Linked DNA regions of Homo sapiens. The protein of the gene in region 1 interacts with the protein of each later gene in a pairwise test. Each region holds a gene or a part of one and is shown in the gene's direction. Other genes may lie near its edges.

Evidence for each region.
Region 2: the proteins of C11orf54 (region 1) and PAK1 interact in binary tests that used the Homo sapiens proteins (3 or more experiments, as listed by UniProt).

The regions. Positions count from the first base shown.
Region 1 is NC_000011.10:93,755,133-93,758,952, forward strand, and holds part of C11orf54 (ester hydrolase C11orf54), read left to right. Parts: intron 1-77; coding exon 78-254; intron 255-2,183; coding exon 2,184-2,333; intron 2,334-3,820. UniProt on the Homo sapiens protein: Exhibits ester hydrolase activity on the substrate p-nitrophenyl acetate, in vitro. Regulates DNA damage and repair by regulating HIF1A degradation via chaperone-mediated autophagy (CMA).
Region 2 is NC_000011.10:77,334,519-77,338,338, reverse strand, and holds part of PAK1 (serine/threonine-protein kinase PAK 1), read left to right. Parts: intron 1-915; coding exon 916-1,015; intron 1,016-2,056; coding exon 2,057-2,253; intron 2,254-3,820. UniProt on the Homo sapiens protein: Protein kinase involved in intracellular signaling pathways downstream of integrins and receptor-type kinases that plays an important role in cytoskeleton dynamics, in cell adhesion, migration, proliferation, apoptosis, mitosis, and in vesicle-mediated transport processes.

The DNA.
Region 1 (3,820 bases):
AATGTTTTGTAACATTATTCAAGATATTCTCTTTGCAGAGATACAAAGATTGACTAATTGCCTCACTTTCTTTTCAGTTTATGCCAGTTATTCAGACAGAAAGTGAACACAAGCCTCCTGTAAATGGAAGTTACTTTGCCCATGTGAACCCTGCAGATGGAGGGTGCCTACTGGAGAAATACAGTGAGAAATGTCATGATTTTCAGTGTGCATTACTGGCTAATCTTTTTGCCAGTGAAGGCCAACCTGGCAAGGTGATTGTGTCCATAAAAATACAATATTCCCTAAATGTTCTCAGAAAGCTAAAAATGTGAACTTTTACTGCCATAAATATGGTTTTGCTAAGAAAATTAGTTTCCCACTTTGGGAGGCCAAGCTGGGTGGATAACTTGAGGTCAACTTGAGGTCAGGAGTTCAAGACCAGCCTGGTCAACATGGTGAAACCCCATCTGTACCAAAAAATACAAAAATTAGCAGGGTGTGGTGGTGTGTGCCTGTAATCCCAGCTACTCGGGGGGGCTGAGGTGAGAGAATCGCTCAGACTCGGAAGGCAGAGGTTGCAGTGAGCCAAGATCATGCTACTACCCTCCAGTCTGGGCCACTGAGTGAGACTCTGTCTCAAAAAAAAAAAAAAAAAGAAAATTAGAGCTTCCTAAGTCAAAGCTCTTTAAATAACCCAGTAATGAAAGGTTCAGAGAGTATGACAGGCAGAGCAAAAGTCATCTTTAAGGTTAAGAATAATATGGCTGGAGGCCAGACGCGGTGGCTCACGCCTGTATTCCCAAGCATTTTGGGAGGCCAAGGTGGGTAGATCACCTGAGGTCAAGCATTTGAGACCAGTCTGGCCAACATAGCGAAACCTCGTCTCTACTAAAAATACAAAAATTAGACAGGGAAGGTGGCACATGCCTGTAGTCCCAGCTACTTGGGAGGCTGAGGCAGGAGAATTGCTTGAACCTGGGAGACAGAGGTTGCAGTGAGCCAAGATTGCACCATTGCACTCCAGCCTGGGCAACAAAGCAAGACTCTGTCTCCAAAAAAAAAAAAAAAAAAAAAAAGAATAGTATGGCTGGCACAATGGCTTATGCCTATAATTCCAGTCCTTTGAGAGGCCAAAGCTGGAGGATCACTTAAGGCTGGCAGTTTCAGACCAGCCTGGGCAACATGGCAAGACCCTGTCAAAAAAAAAAAAAAAAAATTTTTTTTTTTAATTAGCCAGGTGTGGTGGTACATGCCTATAGTCCTAGCTACTCAGGAGGCTGATGCAGGAGGATCCCTTGTGCCCAGGTGTTTGAGGCCGCAACGAGCTATGATCACACCACTGCACTCCTACCTAGGTGACAGCAAGACCTGTCTTAAAAAAAAAAAAAAAAGACTACTTAGTAAGCAAGACCTTTTTCTGAGAACTAAAAGGTAATAGAATATTAATTTGGGGAGTGAGTTTGTCATCTACATGAACCATACAGCTAAAATAAATAATGCCTACTTACAGGTAGTAAATAGGTTATTTGCTTCTTTCTGATGAATCACACATTGCTCTAGATAGAAATGGTGGTAGCAAAAACTTACAGCAAGAACAAAGTAAGGAAAACTAATGCCTTACTTGATATTTACTTCCTATTAGTACACAAAAATATGATTTCAGTGTTAGCTTTTGTGAAGACTCTCCAGTTTTGGAAGTAGAGATAGCCTCTTCAGCTACTTTGAGATAAGAGATTGAGAAGTGAAAATACTTAACGTCCAAGTTGTGGAGATAATACAGAATTTTAAGGGAAGTGAGAAAATGTAATCATTTTCTCCTCATCCCCACTTACCAAAGGTTAATTCCTTTAACCAAAGAATTACCAAAGGTAATTCTCAATCTTTGACTGCCTCGACACGTATGTTAAGAGTCTCTAGACTCTCTGCACTGAGAAACTTGTCTTTCTCAGTTTCTCAGTTCAAGAAAGCATGCTTAAGACTTACTAGTAAATTACATGTAACTGATAAGTATGTGTGTGTGTGTGTGCATACATATATATATGACTGATCAAAATTCACGGGATTGCAACATCTCAACTCAGATCTGGGGGCTCTAAGCAAAGAACAGAATATTTGCTTGATAGAATTAAATTATATAATGTTTTATTTCAGTAGTTATTTTGCAGCATAGTCAATGGTATGCATCTTTATGTCCTCTATAGGTAATTGAGGTGAAAGCCAAAAGAAGAACTGGACCACTTAACTTTGTGACTTGTATGAGAGAGACCCTGGAAAAACATTATGGAAATAAGCCTATAGGAATGGGAGGTACTTTCATAATTCAGAAGGGAAAAGTGAAGTCTCACATTATGGTAAGAGCCCATGTGTGCATACATGCATGAAGGAGTTTGTGTGTGTGCACTTACTTAAGATCTTAGGATTTTTTTTTTTTTTTAAACGGATCCTTGCTCTGTTGCCCATGCTGGAGTGTAGTGGCACAATCTTGGCTCACTGCAACCTCCATCTCCCGGATTCAAGGGGTTCTCCTGCCTCAGCCTACTGAGTAGCTGGGATTATAGGCATGCAGCATCACAACCGGCTCATTTTGTAGTTTTAGTAGAGACAAGGTTTTGCCACATTGGCCAGACTGGTGTCGAACTCCTGACCTCAGCTGATCCACCTGTCTCGGCCTCCCAAAGTGCTGAGATTACAGACGTGAGACGCTGCACCGGGCCAGATCTTAGGATTGTAAAGTATGTGTTGGGAATTCTACATTTGAAGACACTTTAAACAAATCCTTTTTATTATGATTGTATTACTTTAAAATTTAAATGATAATTTTATAAATCAGATTGTAAGATAATATCTTTGTCCATGTTAGTATATTAGAACTTTATTTTGGATATGTTTGTTTTTAAGATCAAGATAAATTCAAGGCCTGCAGAGTGACTCATGCCTGTAATCCCAGCACTTTGGGAGGCCCAGGTGGGAGGACCGCTGGAGGCCAGGAATTCAAAACCAGCCTGGTCAACATAGTGATGATGGCAGCGGCAGGCTCTCTGGAGCGGCTGCAGCAGGGAGGCACGGCTGAGGCTACACACTCTATGGAGCGGGTGGGAGCTGAAGACAGGTGGGAGTCCTGCCCCTTCCGAGTTGGCGCTGGAGCTCCGTTGGTGCCGCTGCAATCGCCCAAGCCATGGCTGTAGTCCCTGGCATCCCTGTGCTCTCCCAGTGGGAACAGGCGAGAGCCCCAACTGCCCAGGCGCAGCTGCAGCAGCTCAAACCCGCGGCTGCAGACCTGGGTCTCCCGCTCCACGGAGCAGGCAGGAGCCCTGCCTTCTCCACACAGCTGCAGCTGCCCAAACCGTGGCTGCGGACCCAGGCATTCCTGCATTCTTGGGGGTCTGGGAAGGCCCCCACTGCTCTTACAGGCTTGGAAATGCCTGCTCCCACTGCCTGGCTTCTCCCTGCTGTCGGCGCCTGCTCCGATCCAGGAGCAAAGTCAGGCAGAGCCCGGTCGCTGTCGCAGCCCAGCCAGGTGTGCACACGCTCAGGGCACTGCTGACACACCAGCCCCCTGCCGTCCCGGCCCCTTCTGGATTTGGGGCGCTGACACGAGCGTAGAAGGGAAGCTGAGCGGCGGCTGAGAGCAGCTCCCCACTGGCCTTCAGGCACCCCTTGGCACCTACAGCCTGGATTCCGTGATCGGCAGCAGGAGGCAGACAGGTTCCGGGGCAGAAGGGGGCGGGTTTCCGGTGAGGCCCCACTTTCGGGCCAGGGAAGGCCTGAAGGCTGGGGGCCCAGCTGCCAATCCCACACACCAGAGTGGAAACTTGTGGTGCTTTTTCCAGGCCCACTG
Region 2 (3,820 bases), about 16 Mb from region 1:
AAAGTAAAGTATTAGGTTAGGACCATTTAAATAGTATTTTCCTGTTCACTTATATCTTTAGTGTTTTTTAATTGGTAGAAGTTTCTAAAAAATTAGTTTTGGGTCAATGAAATCAAATTATTGATTTAGTAGAAAAGCTGAGATGATCTCATCTGATTCCCAAATTTTATAGATGGAAGTCCAGAATTATATAGTCAATGGGGTAGCAGCAGAACCAGGCATTTTAATTGTACCATTGTGTCTCTTTATTACTCATTCTGCCTGCTAAGTATAGGTGTTTTCCAAGATTCTTCTCTTTCTCCTTTACCCTTTGCCGGGTTCAACCATTTTTATAACTTAAACAAAAATCATCTCTTCCCAAATGACTTGTAAATATTTACCATAATTTATCATAAATTAAGTTGCCTACCAGACATTTGTCTTCAGATATCAAATTCAGCATATCCAAAATAGTACAAAATATCTCCTCACCAAAATAAGATTATCCTGCTAACTTACTGCTTCTAGTATCACTTCCATATGTCTGCTTCCTCAAATATGACCCTTATTTGTTGTTTTCCTCTGGTCTGTCATTATAAGATCCTTTCCATTTTTCTTCAGTAATTTCTCTTGGGCCTTAGGTCCTTTACCAAGGATCTAATTAGAAAAAAAATTACATTGGAGGAACTCCTTTACTTAAAAAAACTGTTTTAAGGTGAAAGGCAGCATGGAGTGTTAAAAGAATGTTTAGCTAGGAGATGGAAGACTTGTTTCTAGATCTGGCTCTGCGATTGATTTGGGGCAAGTCCTTTTACTCACTGGGGCCTTACTTCCTTTATTTTAAAGTGAAGAGGTTGAATTAGTGGATTTTCTATTAAGTCTTCTGTATTATATGTATGTCCTTTCTTTCTCCCCCTGCCCACACCACTTCAATAGTGTCTGCAGGCTCTGGAGTTCTTGCATTCGAACCAGGTCATTCACAGAGACATCAAGAGTGACAATATTCTGTTGGGAATGGATGGCTCTGTCAAGCTAAGTAAGTAGGAGCCTTAGGAATGATAATACTTCTCTGCCTGTGGGGCCCTGTCTCCTGTGAGATGGTCATCATATAATAGTAACTACGACACTCACCAAAGGGTCTTTATGATTTCATGGGATATGAGGGCTGTTTTATATTTTCTGTATTAATCATAGGATATCATTTCATTATTTTTTCATTCATTTATACATTTAACAACAACCACAAAAAACTTTGCTGAATGGTTACTCTGTGCTAGGTCCTGTGATGGGCACTGAGAGTAAATTTTCCCTACCTTCTCAATCTAGTATGGAAAACGTGTAATAGATAATTAGAAAAAAGAGTTTTGTATAATTTCTTTCATTCAGTTATTCAGCAAACTTTTATTGAATGTCCAGTACATGCTGGTCCTTCTAGGGATATGAGGACAAGTAAGAGGACATAATCCATACTCTCAAAGGCTTCCTAATTTAAATAAATTTATAATTGCAATATAATGTAAAAACCATGGCAGGTAGAGCATTTTGTTCAAAGGTGTAAAGACCAGTAGACCAGACAAACAGGCTGTGTCATGGGTGGATGGGCAGTTTATGGAAGGACTGCTAGCAGCCCTGGGTCTGGGGCATAAAAACAGGGCCATGCCTAGTCATAGGTGATTGGGGTTTAAATCAAGGACTCGTGCCCAAGGAATAAGACAAGGACCTAGTCGCCAGATTTGGGATTATGGGAATGGTTTTTCAAGAACAAAGCAGAATTGGGATGAGCAATCAAGACCAAAATGGGCAGCTTGGACTTTAACACTAAGTCCCCTGGTTTGAGGAGAAGTAGGAGGCCAGAGATGGTGTTTCTTATATTCCTTCTATTTCTCTTCAGGGTTCAATAGGAAATAGGCTAGGAGCTAGACATGAAGGTGGTAGTCAAGTGACTTTGGAGAGACAAAGGATAGCAGAGCTGGAAGCCAGGCGGATCTTGTCACCTATGTGTAGGTACACAGTCAACACTTACTGAAGTGAGTGTATATCCTAAATGTATGTTCTTTCTCTTATTTTTCTTTTCTAGCTGACTTTGGATTCTGTGCACAGATAACCCCAGAGCAGAGCAAACGGAGCACCATGGTAGGAACCCCATACTGGATGGCACCAGAGGTTGTGACACGAAAGGCCTATGGGCCCAAGGTTGACATCTGGTCCCTGGGCATCATGGCCATCGAAATGATTGAAGGGGAGCCTCCATACCTCAATGAAAACCCTCTGAGAGTGAGTGTTACCAGTTCTATTTCAAGTTATTTGGGCTGTTGTCTCTAGTCCCAGGAAATAAGAATCCAGGGTGTTCTCTGTGGTTTTCAACCTGGAGATCCCTTTTCTGGATACAACTAGTCACTGTTGAACTTAAAGTATAAATGGCCAAAGAAAAGGAATATTAGAAGTCACTCATTCATTTATTCAACAATTATTTGAGTCCCTGTCAAGTGCAAGAAACTATTCTAATGAAAATAAAATAAATTAATATGTAGTAACAGATGGTAAATGCTGTGAGAAAAAGCAAAGTAAGGGAGTTAACAGAGTAATGGAGGAACAGGTGTGCTATTTTAGAGTAGAGAGGGAAGTTCTCTCTTATAAGTTATTTTATTCTGCAGAGTTGGGAAGTCATTAGAGGGTTTTGAGCTGAGGAGTAATGTGATCTGATTTATGTTTTAAACAGATCATTTTGGCCGCTTTTATGGAAAATAGACTGCGAGAGACTGTTGTAATAGTTCAGAGTGGTGGTGTCTTGGTAGGAGTGGAAGTGAGAAGTGGTCAGATTCAGGAAATTAAAGGACTAGCTGACAAGATGAACTGAATATTAGAGAAAGAGGAATCAGCAATGACTACAAGATTTCTGGTCTGAATTGCTGAAAAAATTCAGTTGCCATCTGTTGAAATGGTGAAGAGCATACTTAAGTTGGGTAATAAAGAGTTGGTTTTGAATGTGCTGATTTGAAGTGTTAATTGGACATTTAAGTGGAGCTGGAGTAGAGTTTGGCTTAAGAGTCTGGAGTTCAAGGGTGAGAAGTCAGGACTATAAACATAAATTTATTAGTAGATAATATATAGTTGGTATATATAGTAGGTAGATGAGATCACTCACCTAGGGAATGAGTACAGTTAAAGAAAAGAGATTTGAGTACTGAGCTCTAGGTTATTCCACTGTTTACAGGTTGGAAGAACTAGCAAAGTAGACCAAGGAGTGGCCTTTCTAGTGTGAGAGAACAGAGAAGTGTCTTGGAGGTGAAGTGTCCTGGAGATGAAGAGAACAGTGTGCTTCCCGAAGGAGGAGGAGGGTAGATTATGTGTCAAATGTGATTGATAGGTTAAGATGAGACTGAGAAATGAACATTGGATTTGCCAATGTAGAGGTTCTTAATGACCTTAATAATCAGTTATCAGTAGAGAGATGGGGATGAAAGTCTAATTAAATTCATGAAAGTGGAAGAAGAGGACATTGAGATGGCATGTATAAACAGGTTTTTTTTTCTCTTAAAGGAATTTTGCTGGGAAGGGTAACAAAAATGGAGCACTATCTTAAAATGGAGTCAAGGGAGGGTTTTTCTAAAAGATGATGTCTGTGTGCTAATGGGAATGATTTAGTGGAGAGGAGGAAAATGGTCATGTACAAGAAGGAAGTGACAACCATAGAAGTGATATCCTTAAGTCGATGAGAGGGGTTCGATCAAGTACTGAAGTAAAGGACATTAGATTAGCATGGACAATTTATCCCTTGTAACAGAGCATCTCAACACAGGTGCAAATAGGTTGGTAATCTTGGTGTGGGCAAATGTGAAAT